Linked DNA regions of Homo sapiens. The protein of the gene in region 1 interacts with the protein of each later gene in a pairwise test. Each region holds a gene or a part of one and is shown in the gene's direction. Other genes may lie near its edges.

The links.
Region 2: the proteins of MEGF10 (region 1) and SCAPER interact in a two-hybrid assay, tested with the Homo sapiens proteins (one large-scale study listed by IntAct).
Region 3: the proteins of MEGF10 (region 1) and HSPA12A interact in a two-hybrid assay, tested with the Homo sapiens proteins (one large-scale study listed by IntAct).
Region 4: the proteins of MEGF10 (region 1) and SHTN1 interact in a two-hybrid assay, tested with the Homo sapiens proteins (one large-scale study listed by IntAct).
Region 5: the proteins of MEGF10 (region 1) and ZNFX1 interact in a two-hybrid assay, tested with the Homo sapiens proteins (one large-scale study listed by IntAct).
Region 6: the proteins of MEGF10 (region 1) and AARS2 interact in a two-hybrid assay, tested with the Homo sapiens proteins (one large-scale study listed by IntAct).
Region 7: the proteins of MEGF10 (region 1) and MCF2L2 interact in a two-hybrid assay, tested with the Homo sapiens proteins (one large-scale study listed by IntAct).

Annotation. Positions count from the first base shown.
Region 1 is NC_000005.10:127,458,259-127,461,722, forward strand, and holds the end of MEGF10 (multiple epidermal growth factor-like domains protein 10 isoform a precursor), read left to right. Parts: 3' UTR 1-2,964; downstream 2,965-3,464. UniProt on the Homo sapiens protein: Membrane receptor involved in phagocytosis by macrophages and astrocytes of apoptotic cells. Receptor for C1q, an eat-me signal, that binds phosphatidylserine expressed on the surface of apoptotic cells. Cooperates with ABCA1 within the process of engulfment.
Region 2 is NC_000015.10:76,769,341-76,772,840, reverse strand, and holds part of SCAPER (S phase cyclin A-associated protein in the endoplasmic reticulum), read left to right. Parts: intron 1-886; coding exon 887-1,099; coding exon of another isoform or gene 1,100-1,117; intron 1,118-3,500. UniProt on the Homo sapiens protein: CCNA2/CDK2 regulatory protein that transiently maintains CCNA2 in the cytoplasm.
Region 3 is NC_000010.11:116,680,067-116,683,566, reverse strand, and holds part of HSPA12A (heat shock 70 kDa protein 12A), read left to right. Parts: intron 1-1,689; coding exon 1,690-1,776; intron 1,777-2,310; coding exon 2,311-2,415; intron 2,416-3,500. UniProt on the Homo sapiens protein: Adapter protein for SORL1, but not SORT1. Delays SORL1 internalization and affects SORL1 subcellular localization.
Region 4 is NC_000010.11:116,925,188-116,928,687, reverse strand, and holds part of SHTN1 (shootin-1), read left to right. Parts: intron 1-796; coding exon 797-896; intron 897-3,500. UniProt on the Homo sapiens protein: Involved in the generation of internal asymmetric signals required for neuronal polarization and neurite outgrowth.
Region 5 is NC_000020.11:49,261,058-49,264,557, reverse strand, and holds part of ZNFX1 (NFX1-type zinc finger-containing protein 1), read left to right. Parts: intron 1-1,074; coding exon 1,075-1,224; intron 1,225-3,500.
Region 6 is NC_000006.12:44,306,848-44,310,347, reverse strand, and holds part of AARS2 (alanine--tRNA ligase, mitochondrial), read left to right. Parts: coding exon 1-49; intron 50-2,906; exon of another isoform or gene 2,907-2,953; coding exon 2,954-3,099; exon of another isoform or gene 3,100-3,114; intron 3,115-3,272; exon of another isoform or gene 3,273-3,316; coding exon 3,317-3,425; intron 3,426-3,500. UniProt on the Homo sapiens protein: Catalyzes the attachment of alanine to tRNA(Ala) in a two-step reaction: alanine is first activated by ATP to form Ala-AMP and then transferred to the acceptor end of tRNA(Ala). Also edits incorrectly charged tRNA(Ala) via its editing domain.
Region 7 is NC_000003.12:183,425,820-183,429,815, reverse strand, and holds the start of MCF2L2 (probable guanine nucleotide exchange factor MCF2L2), read left to right. Parts: upstream 1-1,196; 5' UTR 1,197-1,838; coding exon 1,839-1,914; intron 1,915-3,996. UniProt on the Homo sapiens protein: Probably functions as a guanine nucleotide exchange factor.

The DNA of each region.
Region 1 (3,464 bases):
ATACATGCTGTAATATAGAATTAGTGGAACATTTTGATTAATCTTTCCCTAGAAGTGACTGAAATATTTTTGTGCATATTTGAGAAAGGGAACTTTCCTTTTATTAATTGTCAATTTAGAGAAACTATGCTTAAGCTGGTCTTTTGCATTGCTAATGTGACATGTACCCAACTTTTCATTAATTTGTATTTCCATTTTTAAATTGCATATTCTATGTTTTGTAGTGTTTGGATTGTTAATGAAAAAATATTATATGTTCGTTATTCCTTGTATTATTGCCACTTATCTTTTGCTTGATAAAAATGCGTTGTTCTTTTTTCTTTTGGAGGGACAAGATGAAAATATATAATTTGAATTGATTAAAATTGGTCGTTACTAAAATAGTATAGTAACCACAAGTGATTGGCTTATAAATGAAGTAGAAATGCTTTTTAATATTCCAAAATAGAGTTCCTTTTGATCTGTTGGTGCTGAGCCTTGGTTAAACCAGGGAGAAGGGGAGCAGAAAGGAAACGTTGTTACTGATGAGTACCACAGACTCATCTTAAAAAAAACTCTCATTATGGTGATCATAGAATTGACCATCCAAACTGGGACACTCTTGAGAGTAAATGGAGGGCATTATTAATAATTATCTTGTAATGAACTTAAATCTGGACTGTTCCAGGCAAACCAGACTTATCTTGCAATATGAGAATGCTGACACAATGCAGGAAAGCCAGTTTCCCTTTTGTTGATCTACTTGACCAAGCAAAGGGGCTGAAAAACTGAATAAGGAAACAACTTTATAAGAGAAACAGTGGTCTTCAATCTTTTAAAGACATGAAATCCTATATGGCATTCTGTCTCAGTGAGTCAGTTAACAAATACGTATGTGCAACCCTTCTGCTAGTAGTGCACATAAGTGATTATCCCTGCCAGGTATCGAGTTGGAATATCCAGTTATTTCATGTCACACATCGGCACGTATGATGGTGGTTTGGTCAGATGGATAATACAGCAGACACACTTAGAACACTCACTGCACTGGTGGCTGTTCATTTTGAGGAACTCCAAAGTCAATTCAAGGAAATAAGGAATGACCTGGAACAGGCCTTAGAAACAATTGATTTATTCCAATAGTTAACCACTGGCTGGCTCCCAACTCTAGGTGATAGGCATCTAATTGAGACATGTGTGAGTCAATAGCCATCGGGGTCCTTTTTGGTGAGAAGAAATAAGACATTTTCTCCCTTTTAAAGATCATCTCTTCAGAGCTGCATGGTAAATTTGAATTTCCCCATTGTTCTCTAGAGCTAGGTCAAAAAAACAACTGTTTCTTTTCTTATTCCACTATTAATAAATTGAAAGCTTGCTGTACAAAGGCAACAGCAACTTAAAAAAGAAAATCTGGACAATAGATGTGGACTCCAAGGGGCCACTGCCATCCCTTCCTGTGTGCTCTTTTTGACAAGTAAATCACTCCAGTTAGCTGATGTCCTGAAATGACATTTGTACCTGAGGCAATTCTTATTAGAGCTTACTCAGGACTTTTCAAACATCAGGACACACATAGCAATTTGGATGTTGTAAAACTACGTGTTACATTTGGAGAGGTCTTGTTGAGAAGGCAAAATTTTCTAAATATTTTGATATCAATTTGGGTAAAGAAAGGAATACTTTTGTTAGAATGAGAATTAAAGAGAAAACAAAAGAATCTTGGCAAAATTTTCCCTCTGAAATTACAAACTTTAGGAACTTTTCCAGATGTATCGAATTTAATTTGACATTGATGTCACTCTTCATACCAAGTGAATCTATTCTCATGAACTTTGAACCCATGTTAATTTTGGACCCTATAACTAATTTCCTTTCTGTATCCCATGGTGGTCAAAGCAGTAAAGGAGTTTAGAGATACTTAGCAAATGCCATTCATATAGTATTGTTAGCCAAACTATTATTCCTTCCTTAGAAGTTGATGTATCAGAAAATTTATAAGTTATTTGTATTTATATATAAGTACATCAGAACTTGCCCACATGATAACTCATGTTTGCTTTAATAAGGAAAATATGTTATTTGAGGTTAATTATATGATAGTGAGGAACATTTTACAATTATTTACAGTGTTTGACATTAATTGCTGTCCTATGATACAGTAGTAATGTTAACAGAGAGTTTAATATGTTTAGCATTATCTTTATGGAATTTATATTCACCAATTTCAGGAAAACCAACCATAGAACTTTATAATAGGACAGTTATAACCTGACTGAACCAAATCCATCAGCATAATGACTGTGTGTTCTGAGAAATGCAAACAACTTTATGAAAGTGTGGTCATCTTGACCCCCAAAGAGCCACAGTAGCTGTCAATTATTGAGATTTTTAAATGGTAAATATTGCAAAAGTTAAACAAGGGTACCACAATATCATTTATAATTGATGTCAATATTAGTAGTCCACTTTATGCTTAAAATAAAATCATAAAAAATCAAGTTTTAAGGTTATATTTTTTAAAATAATGAATTTTCTATCTCTAGGCAACATGTCTTTATTATTCAAGCTGAATGTTTAAGAGAGATTTTGGTCTTAAAGGCTTCACATCATGAAAGTGTACATGCATATGCAAGTGTGAATTACGTGGTATGGATGTTTGCTTGTTTATTAACTAAAGATGTACAGCAAACTGCCCGTTTAGAGTCCTGTTAATATTGATGTCCTAACACTGGGTCTGCTTATGCTAGTTCAGTATTTGGTCTAGGCTTCATTTTGATATGACTGAATTGCAATCTATATTTTTAAAAAGAAAAATCAAAATACATTAGGGTTTACTTGGTTGTGGCAAACAAACAAAAAATGCTTTCAGTGTTGAAATATCTCTATTTTCCAAAGATGATAAACTTTCATCGTTCTTAGCCTACATTGTCATTTATATCACCAAATGAGTTTATAGATTAATGCAATAAACTTTCTAATAAAAAACTCTAGTGTTTCTTTCTATATCTGATTCTACTGTTGATTAATGAGAGAAAAAACCTTGTGCTCGTATGGAAAAAATAATATTTTTTCTTGTTCTTGAAGGACAGAGGCAACATTTTATTCATATTTGGATCCCTGGAACTCAGGTTAGGGGCTGATAGTCAAGTCTTCTGTAACTAGCTTTAGGTTATCTTATGTGGATTTGCTTTCTAAATCTCAGTGCCCATTAGTACTTTCATTTATGACTAAAACATCTTTGAAACATTTGCATTATAGCACTGCGGAGCAGGGATCAAACATGAGTAAAACATTGTTTCTTCTTTCAATAGCTGTTTCTTTACTGGGGCCCTGAATGCCAAGCACAGCTGGGGATGCAGAGACGTGTAAGGCATGAGCTGTTTTGGAGTCCTTCATTATTTAGTTAGGGAAATAAAGCATATGGCTGGCTGTGTGACTGGTTCTGTGGGTTAAGTTAGCCTCTTAAGGCCTTGGCTTCTATATTG
Region 2 (3,500 bases), on another chromosome or scaffold:
AATTTTAGATTTTAGTTCTTTGACTTAGAGTATCATTGGAAAACACAGTACTATTGTTTCTCTTCTCTGTCCAAAGTAAAAATAAAGGCTTGACTCTGCTAAATTGGAAGGTTTTTAAAAAATGGGTATGTATTTAGCCTAAGCCACTGTTTGCTTTTTATATTGTATTTACATTTCTGTTGGTTTGTTATTAAATATTCCTAAAGGACAATAGGGAAGATATCTAAATCTAAAGTGTATGAATGTCATAATGAGACACTACATGCTTTCAATCTTCACCCTTAGGTCATGCTTTTCTCTTTCAGATCGGAGAATTGGGTTCATGTACCATATGAATTTTTAACAAAGATACTTTGAGATCATGTTAATATTATCTGAAGAGAATAAGTTTTATATTTTTGTGTAAAATGCCCTCCAAATATATTGTTGTAAAAATTGGTTTCAGGATTTTTTCAAAAGTACTGAATGTCCTCATTTGATATTAGACAGTCTTTGCAAAAGACCATGTAAATACTTTTGGTTGTATGAGTATAATACAGTGAATGAATGCCTCATACTTGTGACTAGATTTCATTTGCGAAGGATACAAAATACTCATCACAAATTGGCCTACTACAAGAAAATTACAATATAAATTGCTTAATTTCTTAGAAAACTTTGGATAGTGCCCAGTACATAGTAGGCATGCAAGTAAAATTTGTGCTTAATGGTCCCTGTCCTTTTGTTACACTTGAAACATACAAAAAAGATGAGTAAATTTTCTGTCATCCAGTCAAGTACCTCTTCTTCTTCATAGTTAATAGGTTAAGCAAAATCATCTCTTCTTCTAAAGTGGAATAGTTGGTATTTTTTAATTATCTCTGATTCATTCTCTACGTTTTGTTAGTTCACAGTGAGTACATTGGATGATGTGAAGAATTCTGGCAGTATTCGAGACAATTATGTTCGAACTTCTGAAATATCTGCTGTCCACATTGATACAGAGTGTGTTTCAGTTATGCTGCAAGCTGGTACACCTCCTTTACAAGTAAATGAAGAAAAATTTCCAGCAGAGAAAGCAAGGATAGAAAATGAAATGGACCCTTCAGATATTTCAAATGTGAGTGCTGCTAACTTGGTAAGAACAACTTATCAGAATTCTGAGTATATTTAAGAAGCATAAACCCCAATAATAATAACTTGTATGATTTATACTTTTTAAAGCATTTTTATATATTTATTTCATTTTAACATTTTATTATTTTGGTAAACTTTTGATATAGTTAAGATTCTTATTTTTTAGAGGAAGAAAGTGAGATTGTGAGAGTTAAGTGACTTGTTCAAAATCATTTGGTTTGTATGTGATTTGATCAAATGCTCTTAGCCCAGAATTAAGAATCTAAACTAGTAACAATAAAGTCTTCTATGCTACATCTAGCATTCTGATAGATGGGAAATGGTGTCTGCTAGACTTAGTTTTAAAAACTTTCTTAACAGAGTACTTTAGACAGCCACTATCATTTGCTTGGAGTTGGTCTTTAAGATGAAATTTATTTACCATCCCTATTCCAGAATCTCTAAAAATGCATTGATTTGTGATTATTTATAGATTTATGGTTTTGGATGATAACATATTTCTACCCATCTCTTCCTTTTGCTCATTTTAGTATTAGGATACTTGACCTGGGGATAATCCAGAATAAATCATGCTAACTTTGTTTAAAAACTAGCTTTCCAAAGAAATAGGCACATATAAAAAGCTGTGAAAAATTACTTAATTTTTACTTTTTAAAGGCTGCTGTGGACTATAATTTCTTCTAAAATTTAATGCCTAATGCTGACAGATCTTAACAACACATGGTATTAGGTAAAATTATACATTTTATAGGGATAATAACAGTAGAGATGAAACTTGATATTGGTTGTTTAAGGGTAAAAAGGAAAAGGTTATAGTAATACAAAAAACAAATGTTTAGATTCTTTTAATAAGGTAGAACAATTGATTTTCATCTTGTGTCTTTTAGTAATGAACATTTCTAAATGTTGAACATAATTATGCTCAAATAAGTAGTGAGTTTATTGTATGGGGTGGAATTTGGTCATTTATTTTGTTTTAGCAGTTGTATATCAAATTGTATATTTTTCAGTTTGATTCTGTGAGAATCAAATTTTAAAAGAGGAAAACTCTCATCCTTAAATAAGCATGAAATAATTAAAAATTCTGACCTCATTATTTTTATTTTCATCACATATATAAACTTGCAGAGTCATAAACCCTTTTGGTTATTTTGAGGGTCAAATTTGCATACTTGAAAGAAAATAAATTCTGCTTTAATGTGGATATTAGTGTATTCTTAGAGGTGTTAAGAATACTTTTTGTTTTGTTTTGACAAACCAAGGGTGATAAGGTGATAAGCACCTTATTGTTTAGTTCCCAAGTGGAGAGTTACAGAGAATTCCTGTAGTGATGAGACAACTGTTTTTTCTTTTCTTTCTTTTTTTTTTAAAATTATACTTTAAATTCTAGGGTACATGTGCACAATGTACAGGTTTGTTACATAGGTATACATGTGCCATGTTGGTTTGCTGCACCCATCAACTCGTCATTTACTTTAGGTATTTTTCCTAATGCTATCCCTCCCCCAGCCCCCCACCCCCTGACCAGCCCAGGTATGTGATGTTCCCCGCCCTGTGTCCATGTGTTCTCATTGTTCAACTCCCACCTATGAGTCAGAACATGTGGTGTTTGGTTTTCTGTCCTTGTGATAGTTTGCTTAGAATGATGGTTTCCAGCTTCATCCATGTCCCTGCAAAGGACATGAACTCATCCTTTTTTATGGCTGCATAGTATTCCCTGGTATATATGTGCCACATTTTCTTAATCCAGTCTATCATTGATGGACATTTGGGTTGGTTCCAAGTCTTTACTATTGTGAATAGTGCTGCAATAAACATACGTGTGCGTGTGTCTTTATCGTAGAATGATTTATAATCCTTTGGGTATATGCCCAGTAATGGGATCGCTGGGTCAAATGGTATTTCTAGTTCTAGATCCTTAAGGAATCACCACACTGTCTTCCACAATAGTTGAACTAATTTACACTCCCACCAAGTCTTCCACAATAGTTGAACTAATTTACACTCCCACCAACAGTGTAAAAGCATTCCTATTTCTCCACATCCTCTCCAGCATCTGTTGTTTCCTGACTTTTTAATGATCGCCGTTCTAACTGGTGTGAGATGGTATCTTATGTGGTTTTGATTTGCATTTCTCTGATGAGCAGGATGATGAAAATTTTTTCATGTGTCTGTTGGCTGCACAAATGTCTTCTTTTGAGAAATGTCTGTTCATATCCTTTGCCCACTTTTTGATGGGGTTGTTTTTTTCTTTCACTCTCTTTTTTTTTTTTTTTTTTTTTGAGACAGAGTCTCACTGTGTCCCCCAGGCCAGAGTGCAGTAGTGCAGTCTTGGCTCACTGCAAGCTCCACCTCCCAGGTTCACGCCATTCTCCTGCCTCAGC
Region 3 (3,500 bases), on another chromosome or scaffold:
GTCTGGGGGCGGGGAGCTTCTCTCTAAGAATCTGAGGGTAGCCTGAGAGCGGTTATTGGCCTCACATTGTACTAGGCTCTTAATCTTTCTTGTGTATTAACAGATTCTTAATCTAATTCCATTGCCTGTTATTAATTCTCCATTAAGACTGTTGATTTATTGCTGAGTCACTCATTGGGTCTGCTTCATGTGCGATGAGTTTAAAATGCAGATGAAACCGGCTGACTTTTCCTGACCTAGGTGACGCTCGCTTAGCTGTGGGAAGGAGCACCGCCTTAGGGAGACTGAGGATGGCGATTTTAAAAAGCTTTTCCTCTTTAATAATTACCTGAATGCAAGTAGGTCATAGCCTTGGTCACAGAACTTGGTTCCCTGGTATCCAGGGCTCTGTGGGTGTGTCGAGGGCTATAGGGTTTGCAGACACGCCCTGTCAGGGTCAAGGCACCAATATGAGCGCTAAGTGAGAGCACTATGGGGGTGGCGCCGGGCACTGTTGTTAAATCTCAAAGGCACGAGGGCCTAAGGTCTAAGGGTTAATTTCAGGCTGCAAGAAAAGAATTGTGGGGCCGGGCGTGGTGGCTTACACCTGTAATCCCAGCACTTTGGGAGGCCGAGGCAGGCGGATCACGAGGTCAGGAAATCCAGACCACGGTGAAACCCCGTCTCTACTAAAAATACAAAAAAAAAAAAAAAAAAAAATTAGCCGGGCGAGGTGGCGGGTGCCTGTAGTCCCAGCTACTTGGGAGGCTGAGGCAGGAGAATGGCGTGAACCCGGGAGGCGGAGCTTGCAGTGAGCCGAGATCGCACCACTGCACTCCAGCCTGGGAGACAGAGCGAGACTCCGTCTCAAAGAAAAAAAAATTGTGGGAACTGCAAGCCCCTTAACCTTTCCTGACCTGATTTCCTTCTCCGAACATAGGGACAATGATTTGTGCCCTCTCATAGCCACATAGGCGTCTCCGCCACTCAGCACCTCAAGCCACAGCAGGAGCGGAGGTTGTCCCTGTGTTCATGGAAAAGGCAGCACAGGGGTTTGCCAGGCCCAGACGCGCCACCTTGTGGCCGCAATGCATATTGGCTTCAGCTGGGTCAGGAAATGGCCCCCCCCCCCAGTCTATTTACCCAGGGTGCATGTTAGGAAAACACACCCCAAATTCCTTGTATCAGACAAAATTCCTTGATTTGGAATTGTTTAACTGAGCGCACTGCAGGCTGTTTGGCAGATAGCTTCCTCCCTGGGGCAGCAAAGCCGGGAAACTAGGCGATTTCATTAACCCATTCTCCAAAAAATGTGACCAGGGTAGGTCTCATTTGAGAGTCTCGCTCTGTCACCCAAGTTGGAGTGCAGTGGCGCACATTTGACCACATTCTCTTCTTTCAGTTTTTTTCACGTGGAAAATGGGGATAATAATTCCACCTAATTCCAAGGGTTGTTGTGAGAATCTCATCAGGGTGGGCTTTTCAGCTGGGCACAGGCTAAGCCGAGGAATAGAGGAAGGCCGGTGGAAATCACTTTCTCTGGGAAGAGCTGGCTTTGTGATTCCCGACATCGTATTGACTTATTTTGGTCAAATGTCACTAATGTTCCATCCCTAAATCTCCTCATGCTATTGCCTTCACTGACTGCAAATGATCTCTGCTTTTTCATGCTTTCTTACCCGTCATCATTTTCTTTCTGTCGGCCACTAGCTAAGGAACACATACGGCGTAATCGGCAGAGTCGGACCTTTTTGGTGGAGAATGTCATAGGAGAAATCTGGTCCGAGCTGGAGGAAGGTAGCGTCCTTCAATGTCCTTTGCTCTTGCTGGATTTTCCTGTGCTGCTCGTGAAAAGCCATTCCCATTTGTCCCTTTTGCACTTTTGGAAAATGTTCAAACTCAGTGGGTTCTAAAGACCACTCATGCAGGGAGAGCTCTTTTGGGAGCTGTAATTTTGCATGTTGTAAAACCAGGTAGGGATTGGAATTGATCAGTTCCAGAGTAAGTCTTTGGTGAAACGCAGATGATTTTAGGGCACTCACTATTCACGTGGCAGGAAACTGCCCACTAAGTACGTGCCAGGTATGCAGCAATGTGTGAATCTTAGATTCACTCACCTGGGTTCTCCATCGTCCATGTCTAACCATCCTCCTGGGCAGATTGCATTCTCTTTGGTCATGGTTAACTCCTAGAGCTGCTAATTAGCAAAACCATTGTGCTAATGAGAAGTTTTGAGGGCACTTAGCTGGGTCTACCTAGTTACCACCCACAAGCTTGTTTCAGATGGGGTTGGCAAACAGTCTGTGTAAAAGATGGCTGTTTTTGTGCCAGGTGATAAGTATGTGGTTGTGGACAGTGGCGGTGGCACCGTAGACCTGACAGTCCATCAGATCCGGTTACCGGAGGGACACCTTAAGGAACTGTATAAAGCAACAGGTGAGGCCCTGCAGGGCTAATTTTCTTATTCCTGAGCCAATTCCAGGCAGTTCTGTTTTCACTTGTTTCAGATAACTCTCAGTTTTATTCTCTTGAATGCCACTAACATGTGGGATCGTAGGCGGTGGAGGATACTAATGTCTGCTTGAAATTGGAAAGCAAAATGCAATTAAACATTCTTTAAAACACAAACCACCACAACTTGGGTTTTGGCCTAAAGCGAGCCTGTTTCAGATCCTGGCCAAGGGCGCTGGTTTCTGAAAATTCCGAAAGGATGAGATTGCAACTTGATGTTGCCCATGACCGTGCTAAGGTGAACTTTCTAGGGAGGCCTCACCTTGTCTTGGATCAAGATTGCCAAACCATTGGCCAAGTGCGGTGGCTCACGCCTGTAATCCCAGCACTTTGGGAGGCCAAGCAGGCAGATCACTTGAGGTCAGGAGTTGGAGACCAGCATGGCCAACATGATGAAACCCTGTCTCTACTAAAAATACAAAAATTAGCTGGGCGTGGTGGTGCACACCTGTAGCCCCAGCTACTCAGGTGGCTGAGGCAGGAGAATTGCTTGAACCCAGGAGGCAGAGGTTGCAGTGAGCAGACATTGCGCCACTGCACTCCAACTTGGGTGACAGAGCGAGACTCTCAAAAAAAGATTGCTAAACCAAAGAACATGCTGTTTCCCTTTTGGGAGGTTGGAGGGGAAAGGATAATAAGTAATTAGAGGATCACACAGGGACTAGACCAGGCCTGCTGATTTTCCAGCCCCCGCCCTTGGATGTCTTGGATTGGAATACCATAATGGTCCTAGTTAGATAAAATTATTGATTTTTTAAAAAATGTAATTGATTTAAAATAGATTGTTGGCTGGGAGTGGTGGCTCATGCCTGTAATCCCAGAACTTTGAGAGGCCAAGGCAGGTGGATCACCTGAGGTCAGGAGTTTGAGACCAGCCTGGCCAACATGGCAAAATCCCATCTCTACTAAAAATACAAAAATTAGCCGGGCATGGTGGTGCGTGCCTGTATCTCAGCTACTCGGGAGGCTGAAGCAGGAGAATCACTTCAACCCAGGAGGCGGAGATTGCA
Region 4 (3,500 bases), on another chromosome or scaffold:
CAGATCCCTGAGGGTACACTCAGTCGGGGAAAGTGGAATGGCTGTGGATGGGGAGAGCTACCTCTGAGTGCCAACAGTATGCAGCACCTTTTACCCATTATCTCATAGGTATTAGCACCTGTGATATCAACTTAAGTTCAGTTCTTTGAAGTCAGGTGTTACGTCTCCTGTAGCACCATTCATAGGCACTTTCACATCATTGGTGCTTAGTAAAATGCCTTCCTCATGAAAGACTTGAAGGAATACGATACATTTCCAGAAATCTCTTCAAAAGAGCAAAAAGTTTCTGAGTTACAGATTTAGGAAGCTGAATCTGGTTAAAATCAAAGACTCTAGTATTTGCAGTTTTTGAAGGAAATTAAGCAGGGGAGAGAAGTATGCAGCTATTAAATTTCATTACTAAATGTCATCTTTAAAATTAATTCTTGGTCTGTACACTTTTAAAGTATTAACAATTTCTTAGTGTTTGAGTCATATACTTCGTTGTTAACAAATATTTCTTCAGCCTACTCCTTCCTACCCTTCAGCCATTGTTTTTAATTTTTTTCTTTTCTAAAGTTGTATATACAGCAAAAAGATAACATTTAATATTGATGGATAGGAGTCCTCTCTTGCATTAGCAATAGACTAGATAGTGAAAAGTTTAAAAAGGTCTGTAATTTCATATTGAAATTTCTAATTTTGCCTTAATAAAAAGAACTTACTTTTGAGAAAGGTTATGTTCTTTTTTTCACATGTATAAACAATGTTTAGTTGCTTATTTCAGCTCTCTTCTGAATGTTTGCTCTCTGTGCAGTTGATGAACTCCAGAAACGAGTGAACCAGTCTGAGAATTCAGTACCTCCACCACCTCCTCCTCCACCACCACTTCCCCCTCCACCTCCCAATCCTATCCGGTAAGCACATCCAGGAAGACTGCTCTGCATCAAATGTTCTTCTCCATCAGATTGTGCCATAAGAGGAGTCATCTTAAAAGCATGAAAGATACTAGCTGATGCTTCTCTTGGAAATTTTTCTAAAGGCCAGTGATATGGTTTGGTTGTGTCCCCACCCAAATTTCCTCTTGAATTGTAGCTCCCACAATTCTCACGTATCGTGGGAGGTAATTGAATCATGAGGGTGGGTCTTTCCATGCTATTCTCATGATAGTGAATCTCATGAGATCTGATGGTTTTATAAAGAGGAGTTCTCCTGCACAAGTTCTCTCTTCCCTGCTGCCATGTAAGATGTGACTTGCTTCTCCTTGCCTTCCGCCATGATTGTGAGGCCTCCCCAGCCATGTGGAACTGTGAGTCAATTAAACCTCTTTCCTTTATAATTACCGAGTCTCGGGTATATCTTTATTAGCAGCATGAGAATGGCCTAACAAGCCAATATATTATTCCCTTCTTGTAGTATACAAATTTCATTCAATAACATTAAGATTTCCTTTAATGGTAAGAACAAGGAATTTTGAGCTTTTCCAGAATGTGTTTACTTTTCTGTCTTGCTAATTCAAATTTGAAAAGCTGTGGTTTGTTCAATTATTTTAAAAATAAAAATACTAAATGAAAACGTAAACATGCTAATTGTTATAAACTAGTAATTAAACTAGAAGTATTAATTACTTTTATCCCTAACCTCATATTTATACCTTTAGTAATGCTAAGAGAGGAACCGTCCATAAGAAAGATAGATTATGTTTAAATTCTTGTGGCAGGAAGTCACATATGCAGACAGGAATTCGTATTTTCTGAAGCCTAAGGTGACATGATGGCATTATGTACATCACTTGAGCACAATACACACTAGGAGATTTAGAGTCAAATTTTGCCTTTTTTGTGGTTCCACATGCCACCATCTAGAATTACATAAGACAACCTCCTTGCCATGGTGACAGCTTACATGCTCATGTCATGATGTTAGCTGCTTTTGTATAATTTATTCTTTAACAAATGGCATTTTAAAACTTTTTCTAGGGTTTTTTTTTTTTTTAAACCTTTCATTAACTCATGTGATTTGTTTAATCCTTTCACACAGAGAGGCCATTTATTCATACTTTGCACCTTTGCTGATCCATCTGAATAGAATGCGTAGCATGTTCCTCCCACACAACTATGAAAATGGGACTTTGCCTTTTAAAAAGATTCTCATTAGTTTTCCTTACTGAGTAGGGTATGACATAATCTACTTTAAGCCATTGAAGTAGTTAAGGCAAAATAATTTTTACACGTGATCGATCCAAGAGTCAATTGAAAGAATTTCAGGTATTTTAAAATCTTTCTCTCCTGGGTAGCTAAATCTGTAGGAGATATTCTGGATTTGACATTTAAAATTGGAAATTCATCACTTTGATCTTTCTCTAAGGTCTGGGATTTTGAGCTGATAAGAAAGGTCACTTCTGTCCATGAAGAGGGAGAACGATTAAAAAGTAATTACAGTCTTGCTGTTGGCCTTTAATTTTTATTCTCAGAAATGTTGAGAGCCCCTAGAATTAAAAGTAAAGTATAACCTAAGTAGAATTTTTTTTCCCAAAGAGCACTTTACAGTTACGCTGAGAAACGAATGTTCAGGACTATTTGTGTCTCAAGTGTGAACTCTTTTATAAGGCTCTTTAAAGAAAATTTTATTGAATAATATGATTTTTATTTTAAGATGAATTTAAATAGTATAGGACATAATTTTTTAAAGAAAAGAGTTTTTTTTTTGTGAGGAGTGCTTTCTTGTCAAAGAGGTATATTTGCACATGTATTGAGTTTGAGTGGATTTTGAATTCACAAATCAAAGTTTTCTAACTTTGTTCCTGATCTATTTGTTTTATCCTGATGTAAATCATGGTTAGAAATGAAAGTGGGAAGAAAAAAAAAGACTAGGGCCTGTAGCTTAAGTGGCTTACTGCTTTTCCCTTCTCTTCCCACTCATTTGACTCCAAGAATAGATAGAAGAAAGAGGAAGAAGGCAAACCTTGGTCACTTTGTCCCAGTGGTAGTGAAAGTAGGACAGGTTCTATGCAGATATAGTTCATGGGGAGAGGGTTGAGGCTATTAAGTGCTTTTTTTAGAGAAACAGAACCAATAGAATGTGTATATCTATAGATACAGATATAGGCAGATATAAATACAGATTTATTATAAGGAGTTGGCTCATGTGATTATGGAGGCTGTCAAACCCCAAGATCTGTAGGGTGAGTTGGCAACTTGGACACCCAAAAGTGTCAATGGTGTGGTTCCAGGCTGAGTCTAAGGGCCTGAGAACTGGGAGAACCTATGGTGTAGTTTTATTCCAAAGTTTGACAGGCTCAAGACCCAGGAAGTGGCAGTGTTTCAGTTCAAGTTCGAAAGCAAGAAAAAGCCAATAACCCAGTTAGAAGGCAGTCAGGCAGGAGGAATTCCCTGTTAGTTGAGGGAGGATCAGCCTTGTTGTTCTAATTAGGCCTTCAAATGATTGGCTGAGGGCCACCCACCTCAGGGAGGACCATCTGCTTTACTCAGTCTACTGATTGAAATGTTAATGTCATCCAC
Region 5 (3,500 bases), on another chromosome or scaffold:
ATGACCTTTGCCTTCACAATCCAAGATGGAGAAAAGACAAGGAAACACTGCCCATCCCCACCCTACCTTAACGCTCCTTCCCCCATACCACCCACAGCACCTCTGTGTACAGCCAACTGACCAGGGAAATGTCATCTTTTAGCTGGGCAGCAATGTGCCCAGTCAAAAATCTGAGTTCTTATTACTAAGGAAAAGAGAGAGAACAGATATTGTGAGCCTTGAAGTCTCTCCCACAGTATTCTTGGCCTGTTTGTTTTTCTGTTGTGTAGGTTGAGCATCTCAAATTGGAAAATCCAAATCCAAAACTTTCTGAGTGCCAACATTATTTCTTTTTTTGAGACAGGGTCTTGCTCAGTCACCCAGGCTGGAGTGCAGTGGCACAATCTCGGCTCACTGCAACCTCCACCTCCTAGGTTCAAGCGATTCTCTTGCCTCAGCCTCCTGAGTAGCTGGGATTACAGGCGCCCGCCATCACACCTGGCTAATTTTTGTATTTTTAGTAGAGACAAGATTTCACCATGTTGGCCAGGCTGGTCTCGATCTCTTGACCTCATGGTCCACCCGCCTCGGCCTCCCAAAGTGCTGGGATTACAGGCGTGAGCCACCGCGCCCGGCCCAACATTATTTCACATTTTGGATTTCCAGATTTGCAATGCTCAACCAGTAAGTATAAACGCAAATATTCCAAAATCTGAAACACTTCTAGTCCCAAGCATTTTGGATAAGGGATATTCAACCTGCCACCACGCCTGGCTAATTTTTGCATTTTTAGTAGAGACAGTGTTTTGCCATGTTGGCCAGGCTGGTCTTGAACTACAGACCTCAAGTGATCCACCTGCCTTGGCCTCCTAAAATGCTGGTATTACAGGCATGAGCCACCACACTCAACCGATACTAGTTCTTTGGTTTCAAGACCACAATAATGTGCCTTGGGAAATTGGTTTGTTGACCAGTCTATTTATTTATTCTCCCTCCTTACTGTTCCTGTCTTAGCTTTGCTTTCCCTCAAGGTGAGGACTGAGTTTGGGGGATGATGATATTTCCTCATCATTTCTTTCCCTCTGTTCTTGGAAGATCATGACACAGATGAAGGAGTCAGAGCAAGAGCTTCATGAAGGAGCCAAGACCCTGGAGTGCACCATGCGTGGTGTCCTACGGGAACAGTACCTGCAGAAGTACATCTCACCCCAGCACTGGGAAAGTCTCATGAATGGACCAGTGCAGGTAGGGGTCATCCTGGGGGACACAAATATGTCTCTGGCCTCAGTACTTTGAGGTAGCCTCCAGGAGAAGCATCAGTCCAAAACTTTACCTGTTTGATAATCTGATGCTGCCACAATGTGTAAAGTTCCCTTTTGTGATGAGAGGCAGCTGAATATGCTGGTCAGGAACAAAACTCGAACCAGCCTGTTGGGTTTTAGTCTGAGCTTGGCTCTGGACAAGTTACTTAATTTTCTGTGGCTGTTTCCCCTTTTATAAAATGGGGATAATAATAAGCATTAAGTTGAACCATATGAAATTGCCAACATCTGTAATATTGATTTGCAAAAAAGGCAATTTCTTACAGATCTTTGTTCTTACAGGATTGTTATTTAGATGAGCAAGGTGATATTTGTAAACTTATTAATTTAGTAACTGTACTATAAGTGTTTGTTAAATGAAATGAAGAAAATCATAACCAGAGGCAAACTAGCACAGATAGAGAACTTGGGAGTTGATAGATATAGTCATGCAGACTGACTGTGTGACTTGGGTTCATGTGATCCTCAGCAATCAAACATGGATAATAATAATGCCTACCTTCAAAAGATATGGTAAGAAATAACTGAGACAGTCTCTGTAAAGTGGCAGGCTAGGAACCCAGTGAAATGGTAGCTTTGTTACCATTAGGTTGCTGATTTACAGGATTACAAACCAAAAGCTTACAGAGGTCATTCAGGTCTTACAAATAAGTGAAGCAATCTAGATTTGAAATATTAAGAAGCGGAGAGGACTGTGGCAAACTAGAACAGATGTGGTAGCAACCCAGCTCCAGCCATTTGTTGCCATTCAGTAATAAACAGTCATTGCTGCCATAGCTCCTGATTTTGTCAAAATAGGCTGGAAAATTTTTTTAATTCTTTTTTTTTTTTCTTCTTTTTTTTTTTTTTGAGACAGAGTTCTCACTCTCTCACCCCAGGCTGCAGTGCAATGGCGCGATCTTGGCTTACTACAACCTCCGCCTCCCGGGTTCAAGCGATTCTCTTACCTTGGCCTCTTGAGTAGCTAGGATTACAGGCACCTGCCATCATGCCTGGCTAATTTTTGTAGAGACAGGGTTTCACCACATTCGCCAGGCTGGTCTTGAACTCCTGACCTCAGGTGACCCGCCCACCTCGGCTCTCCAAAGTGCTGGGATTATAGGCATGAGCCACCGTGCCCAGCCCTTTGATTTTTAAAATTCTATACAAGTCATGTTAAATGTTCCAGTTGCCCAAGGAGATGCCAGTTCACAGCCTCTGAACTTTTTTTTTTTTTAACAATATGATGTTTCTTTTTTAATTTTTTTTTTAACTTTTAAGTTCAGGGGTACGTGTGCAGGTTTGTTACGTAGGTAAACTTGTGTCATGAGGCCAAGCGCGCAGTGGCTCACGCCTGTAATCCCAGCACTTTGGGAGGCCGAGGCAGGCGGATCACGAGGTCAGGAGATTGAGACCATCCTGGCTAACACGCTGAAACCCCGTCTCTACTAAAAAAATAAAAAAATTAGCCGGGCATGGTGGCGGGCGCCTGTAGTCCCAGCTACTCAGGAGGCTGAGGCAGGAGAATGGTGTGAACCTGGGAGGCAGAGCTTGCAGTGAGCCGAGATCGTGCCACTGCACTCCAGCCTGGGCGACAGAGCAAGACTGTCTCAAAAAAAAAAAAAAAAACTTGTGTCATGGCGGTTTGTTGTACATCACCTAGATATTAAGCCTAGTACTCATCAGTTATTTTTCCTGCTCCTCTCCCTCCTCCCATCCTCCACCCTTCAATAGGCCCCAGTGTGTTGATCCCCTCTATGTGACCATGTGTTCTCATCATTTAACTTATAAGTGAGAACATGCAGTATTTGGTTTTCTGTTCTTGTGTTAGTTTGCTAAAGATAATGCCCTCAAACTCCATTCAGGTCCTCGCAAAGGACATGATCTCATTCTTTTTTATGGCTGCATAGTATTCCATGGTATATATGTACCACGTTTTCTTTATCCAGTCCTTCATTGATGCGCATTTAGGTTGATTAGATGTCTTTGCTGTTGTGAATAGTACAGCCTATAAACTTTAAGGGAATTACTTTTGATTCTTTTTTCTTTTGAGATAGGGTCTTGAGCCCAGGCTGGAGGGCAGTGGCATAATCATAGCTCACTGCAGCCTCGGCCTCCTGGGCTCAAGCAGTCCTCCCACCTCAGCCTCCTGGGTAACTGGGATTATATGTGCATGCCATCACACCCAGCTTTTTTGAGACAGAATCTTGCTTTTGTCAC
Region 6 (3,500 bases), on another chromosome or scaffold:
CACCTATGACACTGACCTCTTTTCCCCGCTGCTCAACGCCATACAGCAGGTGAGTGCCTCTTCCCTTCCAGAAGCCCTCTAACCTGCTCTTCACAGCCCTCAGCCCCATTGCATTCCATCTTTGTTGAGAACTCAGAGTGTTCTCAGCATCTGAGGACAATAACCAACCAAGAATTCCAAGACGTCAAGCAAGACACTAGGATTCATTACTTATTACCTGATGTTCCTCCTAACTCCTTGCCTCTTTCATTTATTTAGAAAATACGTGTTGAGTGCTTACTTTATGTTAAATCCTTTGTGTTTGGTACAGAAGACACAGCAGTAAGCAGGAAAGAGATCATGGAGATTATATGCTAGCATGAGAGATAGACAATCAATAAATGTGTTAAAGAACAAGGTAATAGCTTACAGATTGTGAACAGGCAGTAAACATGGGTGAAAGTAACTAGGAAGAAGGAGGGGTACAGAGGAATCTTAGATAAGGTGCTTGGGGAAGGCTCACCAAGAAGATGACCTTTGAGCTGAGCCCCAAAGGAGGAGTCAGCTACAGGAAGTTCTTTCCAGGCAGAGGGGACAGCAGGTACCAAGGGCCTTGGTACTGATGGATTAGATGGGGAGGGGAAAGAGAAATCAAAGATGGCTCCCAGGCTATTGGCTTGAGCAACACAGTGAATGGCATGACTGTTTACTGAGATGAAGAAGCTTGGGGAAGAGAGAGGTTTGGAGCTAGGTGAATCAAGCTCCCTGCTTTGGAGCATTTCCACATGTGTGTAGCTTATACCCTCCCTCCTTGCCCCGCAAGAAAGGGCTTGACATGTGCCAAAAACTAAAAGGTGGCCAGCCAGCTAAAGGAGAATCCCATGGGATATAGTAGGAACATGTGTCAGTTGGCTTTTGCTGTATAACCACCCTAATGCTCTGTGGCTTAACCAACAACCATGTATCTGCCCCCTGAGTCTGTGAGCTAGCGTTTAGGCTGGGCTTAGCTGGCTCATTCTTTGGTCTTGTGTGAGCTCATTCATCCATCTGTGGTGAGCTGAGAGGCCGCAGCTCCTCTGGGGCTTGGCTGGCTGTCAGTTTGGGGGCAGTAGGGGTGACTGGACCATGTGTCTGTCATCACCTAGCTGGCTAGTCTGGGCTTGTCCACATCACAGCTCAGCAAGGTTCCAAGACAGAGAGCAGACACATAGGCTCAGAACAGTGTTGTTTCCACTGTATTCTATGGGCCAAAGCAAGTCACAAAGCCAGCAGAGATTCAGGGGATGGAGAAATGGATTCTGTCCCTTGATGGGAAACAGCTGTAAAGTCCCATTTTAAAGTGGCATATGCCTAGGAAAGGGCCATTTTTGTGAACAGTCTCACAGAGAAGAAGGCAGAATCCAGTCTTGTGGGCCTCAAAGTCCAAAGTGGGGCCTTGATTCTCAGAGTGGTGAGAAGAGTTCTCAGGGCTGGGCACGGTGGCTCACTCCTGTAATCCCAGCACTTGGGGAGGCAGAGGGGGGCGGATCGCTTGAGGTCAGGAGTTGGAGACCAGCCTGGCCAACATGGCAAAATCCTGTCTCTACTAAAAAAATAGAAAAATCAGCCAGGCATGGTGGCACACACCTGTAGTCCCAGCCACTTGGGAGGCTGAGGCAGGAGAATCTCTTGAACCCAGGAGGTGGAGGTTGCAGTAAGCTGAGATCGTGCTACTGCACTCTAACCTGGGCAACAGAGTGAGAGTTCATCTCAAAAAAAATAAATAAATAAAAGTGTACATCAGATCATGCCACACTCCCCACTGAGAACCCTTCTTTTTTTTTTTTGAGACAGAGTCTTGCTTGCTCTGTTGTCCAGGCTGGAGTGCAGTGGCATGATCTCGGCTCACTGCAACCTCTGCCTCCGGGGCTCAAGCAATTCTCGTGCCTCAGCCTCCAGAGTAGCTGGGATTACAGGCACCCGCCAACACACCTGACTAATTTTTGTATTTTTAGTACAGATGGGGTTTCACCAGGATTGGCCAGGCTGGTCTCAAACTCCTGACCTCAGGTGATCCACCCGCCTCAGCCTCCCAAAGTGTTGAGATTACAGGTGTGAGCCACCGCGCCCAGCCTGATGTACACTTTTAAAAGGCTACTCCTGTTGCTGTGTGGAGGATGAGCTGGAGGGAGATGAGAGCAGAAACTTAGGAATCAGTTGGGAGGCTATTATCGGTCCAGGCAAGGACCACAGGGCATGCTTCGGATAATAGCAGTGGAAGTAGAGACAAGTAGATTGATTTGAGAGATGTCATGGAGGTAGGAGCAAAAGGAACCACTGATGGATCATGACGGGTAGGGGAAAAAGAATTCAAAGATGGCTCCCAGGCTATTGACTTGAGCAACACAGTGAATGGCATGACTGTTAGACGAAGAAGCTTGGGGAAGAGAGAGGTTTGGTGGTAAGTGAATCAAGCTCCCTGCTTTGGAGCATTTCCGTGTATGTAGCTTACACTCTCCCTCCCTGCCCACCCCCACAAAAGATGGGAGAGGCAAGAACAGGTAGTGGAGAGCACCTGGAGTCCAACAGGCCCGGCTGAGATCTCAGATCTGCTCCTTGAGAGCTGGGTAGCCTTGTGTCACTGAGTTCCTCTGAGCCTCAGCTTCTTCTTCTTTAAAGCAAGCATGCTAATACCTCCTGGAATGGGCTGTTTTGGGGATTCGAGGCCATGTTGTTCAAGTACTCACCCAGTTCTGATAGTAGAAATTCAGTAAATGGTCACAGATATGTTCACTTGTAGCACCAAATATGAGCCCCGTGAGGGCAGGGCCTGGCTTGTGCTCATCTGTGAGGCTTCTCAGCCCAGGACTGGACTGGCAAGGCCATTCTGGATGTGGTTGGCTTTAGGGCTGAGGGCAGATGCTCTAGAGGCGATAAAGAGCACCCACCTGGGCCAGGTCAGGCAGGGCCACTGGCTGACTCTTCTGCTTCCCAGGGCTGCAGGGCACCCCCTTACTTGGGCCGAGTAGGGGTGGCAGACGAGGGGCGCACAGACACAGCGTACCGCGTGGTGGCTGACCACATCCGCACACTCAGTGTCTGCATCTCTGATGGCATCTTCCCTGGGATGTCAGGTCCCCCGTGAGTCTGGAAGGGCTACAGAGAGGACAGGGGCTGCTGGGGGTCTCAGGTGGAGGAGGGAGGGAACAGGAGAGGTGGGTCTGGTTGAGCCAGTAGGAGGAATGGGGAGAGGGAGAGCTTTGAGGTGGGAGCACACACTGGACCTCGTCCTTCCCACTCCCCATATTGCTGACCATGAGCCGCTGGGGATTCATGTCTGGGCTCTGAACCCCTTTAGGCTGGTTCTTCGTCGGATCCTGCGTCGAGCTGTGCGTTTCTCCATGGAGATCTTAAAGGCACCACCTGGCTTCCTAGGCAGCCTGGTACCTGTAGTGGTGGAGACACTGGTAAGGACAGAGCTTCTTTTTCACTCTGGGCCTCCCTGGGCACTTTGGGGAGCCTACCACTGAGCCTAGACAGTG
Region 7 (3,996 bases), on another chromosome or scaffold:
CAAAGTGCCCAAACTTCACAGGGGGAAGAACCTCTCCACAAATCTCATGACACAGGTGAACTGACCTCGCTTCTCAATCACAGCCCACAATTGTTAGAGAAAGCATTAAAAAGGGCTGGGCGCGGTGGCTCACGCCTGTAATCCCAGCACTTTGGGAGGCCAAGGTGGGCGGATCACGAGGTCAGGAGATCGAGACCATCCTTGGCTAACACGGTGAAACAAACCCCATCTCTACTAAAAAATACAAAAAATTAGCCGGGCGTGGTGGCGGGCGCCTGTAGTCCCAGCTACTCGGGAGGCTGAGGCAGGAGAATGGCGTGAACCCGGGAGGCGGAGCTTGCAGTGAGCTGAGATCGCGCCATTGCACTCCAGCCTGGGCGACAGAGCCAGACTCAGTCTCCAAAAAAAAGAAGAAAAGAGAAAGCATTAAAAAAATACCCTCAGCCCCCTGTGATGGGTGGCTACTCCTAGAATTTGGATCCAGGGTGTTTGCGGCTTGGCTTTTTACATATCGAAGAGGAAAGAGATGGCTGAGAACATCCGCCTGGGTGGTCCCGCCATTCCGCCTGCTGAGTATTCAGGGACTCCCGCTGTAGAAAGGATTGGGGGACAACCTGACCGAATTCGCATTTGCTCAGGCGTTTCCCGTAGCGCTCTGCTGAACTGGGGTTAGTCTTTTGCTGCCAGTCAGAAAGTGTCTGGGCCCAACTAGGGAAACCACGGGATAATGGGCTGATGGGGAGGAGGACCAGCATGGAGGATGTGCCACAGCCCCTCCAGAAGGTAGCACTGGCGTGCCTGACAGGTGACAGACGGAGCAGAGGCAAGGGCGCAGCTGCACGAAGGAAAACGCCCACATAGGGGGTGAGCGCGCCCACGCGTGCTCAGCCTTGTCGGAGCGCAGCCCGGGCGCCGGGCTCCCAGTGCAGGTGTGGCCAGCGGAGGTCAAGAACTGCGTGGAACAACCCCAAGTGGGGGAAAACACACGCCAGCCGCCCCCGGGGTCAGGAGGTGGGGCAAGCAGCGGCGCCTCACCCAGCCTCCCGCTCCGGGTCCTGCCGGATGGCGGCAGCTCTCCGGGCCAGCCCCCTTCTCTCCGCGGCTCCTCCGCAGACACCCGGCGCGGAAGAAGGAGGGGCGGAGACCTGGCCGGCGCGCGTCTGATGATCCGGACCCCGGTGCGACTGGAGCGCCTCAGTCACTGTCTCCCCGCCCCACGGTTCCGAGTAAGGACCGGAGCTCCACTCCGGGGGTGGAGCGCGGGCTCCCCGCAGGGAAAGGTGCGCAGCGTTCCCGACCCCAAAACGAGCGGCGCTTGGGAGCGTGCGTGCCTCCCCGAGAGCCCCGGGCGCCACCCGTGGGCTGGACGAGGTGGGCGCTGGGGCGTGGGGCCGGCGGCGCAGAGAAGCCACGGCCACCTGCCGCCTCCCCTGCACCTGGCGGAGCATCCCTCACTCTACAGTCCCTGGAGGCGGCGCCGGAAACCTGGCGGCCGGGACCGCGATTCTGGAAGCCCCGGAGCTCGCCCGGCCGGAGGAGCCGGGGCGCGGTTCCGGCGAGATTGGCGACTTGCTTCCTTTTGCAGAACGGCCGCTCCTCTCTCGGTCCAGCTGCGACGCTGGGAAAGCGCCAGACTTGGTCTGTCACGGGAGCCCCCGCGGGGCGTGGCGAGGGAGAGCTGGCCTAGGCTGCGAGGGACTCTCGTTTCTTGCCTGGAGAGCCAGGAAGAGGGCGAGGGCAGAGCATCCTTGGGCGGAGATGCCTTTAAAAAATCATCCACCGCAGCGGTAGAAACAGTTTTGTTTGGCTTTATTTATACGGAATGGTTTTTCAGTGAAATGCTGTCTTGCTTAAAAGAAGAGATGCCTCCCCAGGAGCTCACCCGGCGACTGGCCACAGTGATCACTCATGTCGGTAAACGAAGCTTTAATTTTTCCTGCGTTTTATTAATGGCGGGTGAGGATGGTCTCTGGGCTTCATCTGGCTCCTGGCCTCACCCGCTGCCCCGGGGCAGCGCGCTTCCTGGGGGGTTGCCCGGCATCTGGGCCTCGCTGCTCTGGGTCCTGCCTGCGGTGCCCAGCGGGGGGCATCCCTGGGGCGCGCCGCTGGTGGGGGTCGGGGGGCCGAGGCTGGTGCCTTCACCAGGTGGTTGCCGAGTCCGTTGAGCTCCAAACCGAGGGCTGCTGGGCTGTTACCATCCGTTAGCTGCTTCTGACGGGAGTAGGGTGGGTGGGAAGTTATGTTCTGGTTTTGGGGATAGTGAGAAAGGAGAGGGCATAAGAGGAACGAATGCCAGTGCTTTTCAGCAGAAATGATTGCCACGCCACTGAAGGCTTGTTTATAAGAAAGTGCAGGGAGAGGCAGGTTACATGGGAGCGCCCCTGCGCAGCTCGGCCGCTAGGCCTGTTTTACTGTGCTGCCTGGAGGGTTAAGCACACCCCTGATGATCCCCGCGAGAAATCTCTGCAAGCCAAGGAGACTGAGCAATTTTAATCTTCTTCCCTGAGTTGAAAAGAGGAGCAAAACATGCATTGCTTGCTCCTGAAATAAGGGTTGTGATGGAACGTCAGGCCCCACAGACTAAGTAAGGGCAAGAGGACATTGAGACAGTTCCCAGTCAGTTTTTTCTTAGCACTTTCTTCCCCTTGGCCTTCCCTGGACCTCCCTCAGTAAAGACACACATTCAGGTTCAGAACCTCTGGATGTGGGCAACTGGAATTATCGGGATCATTTTCTCTGTTGCTGACTGTGCTTGGAGGTCCTCCCATGAATGCAAATCAGCTTTTATTGATAAAGCCAGGAACTATTTGCCTTGGTTTTCTACACATTTGTGAAAGCTGCTTTCTTGGTACTTGCATGTTAAATGTTGCCTCAATTAGTCCAACGTGTTTGCTGTAATAATCGTGCACATCTCAAATGATACACTTGTGAGGACATACTTTGTAAAGATGATTTATATGGGAAGGCCCAGTTTTGATAATTCAAGTTTAGAAAAAAGTTTCTGGTGCCAATTGTGGGCACTGAACTTTTACGACAAAAGATCAGTAGGATCCTACCAGGTAAGGTTGAATGTGAAATATTGCTGAAGGCAGTGTGAAATAAGAGGAAAAAGAACTTGTAATGAAACAGAATTCGGAATCTGCAATATGATGAAAGTTGAAATGATTGTGCTAAAACCCAGCACAGGCATGAAGTTGTGGTATAGAGAAAGAGCAGTGGACTCGGGGTGTGACCGTCTGGATTTGAATCTTTCCCTGGACAAGTCATTCGACCTCAGGTTGAAAAATAGGAATTTTAATAGTACTTTCCCACTCAGCTCAAAGGCTACTTGTGAAGATAAGTAAGATAATTTGGGTAGAAATACTGTGTACACTGTGATTATACAGACATTTCAGTTATTAGACATATCCCTGGTCCCTCTGTCACGCCACTAAAGATCTTTGGTGGGTTACTGGGCCTCTCTCAGGGCGAAGCCTCCCATCTGTTAAACGAGGGGTTGACCTGGATGATTTTAAAGGTCCCTCCTATTTCTCTGGAGCAGGCTCTTCTTGAAAATCTGGCAGGCAGTATTCCTTGACTAACACTTAGCTGCCTGTGGCGCCCAGGCTATGGTATTTTCTTGCCTACCTTGCTCCCTCCCTCCTTCTATAGACAGCTCCATGCAGGATACACATAGGAATTTGTTGTAGTTTCTCCTTTCAACCTCTAATGACCCTTGGCTTTTGTGTGCTTTGCAAGATTCTGTCTCCTCATACTTAATCTAATAAAACCTGTGAAATGGGTGGGGTACTCATTACTACCCCTATTTTACAAATGAAGGAATTGACTCAGAGAGGATCATCTTTTTTGTTTTTTTTTTTGAGATGGAGTTTCGCTCTTGTTGCCCAGGCTGGAGTGCAATGGTGTGATCTCGACTCACTGCAACCTCCGCCTCCCGGGTTCAAGCGATTCTCCTACCTCAGCCTCCCGAGTAGCTGGGATTACAGGCATGTGCCA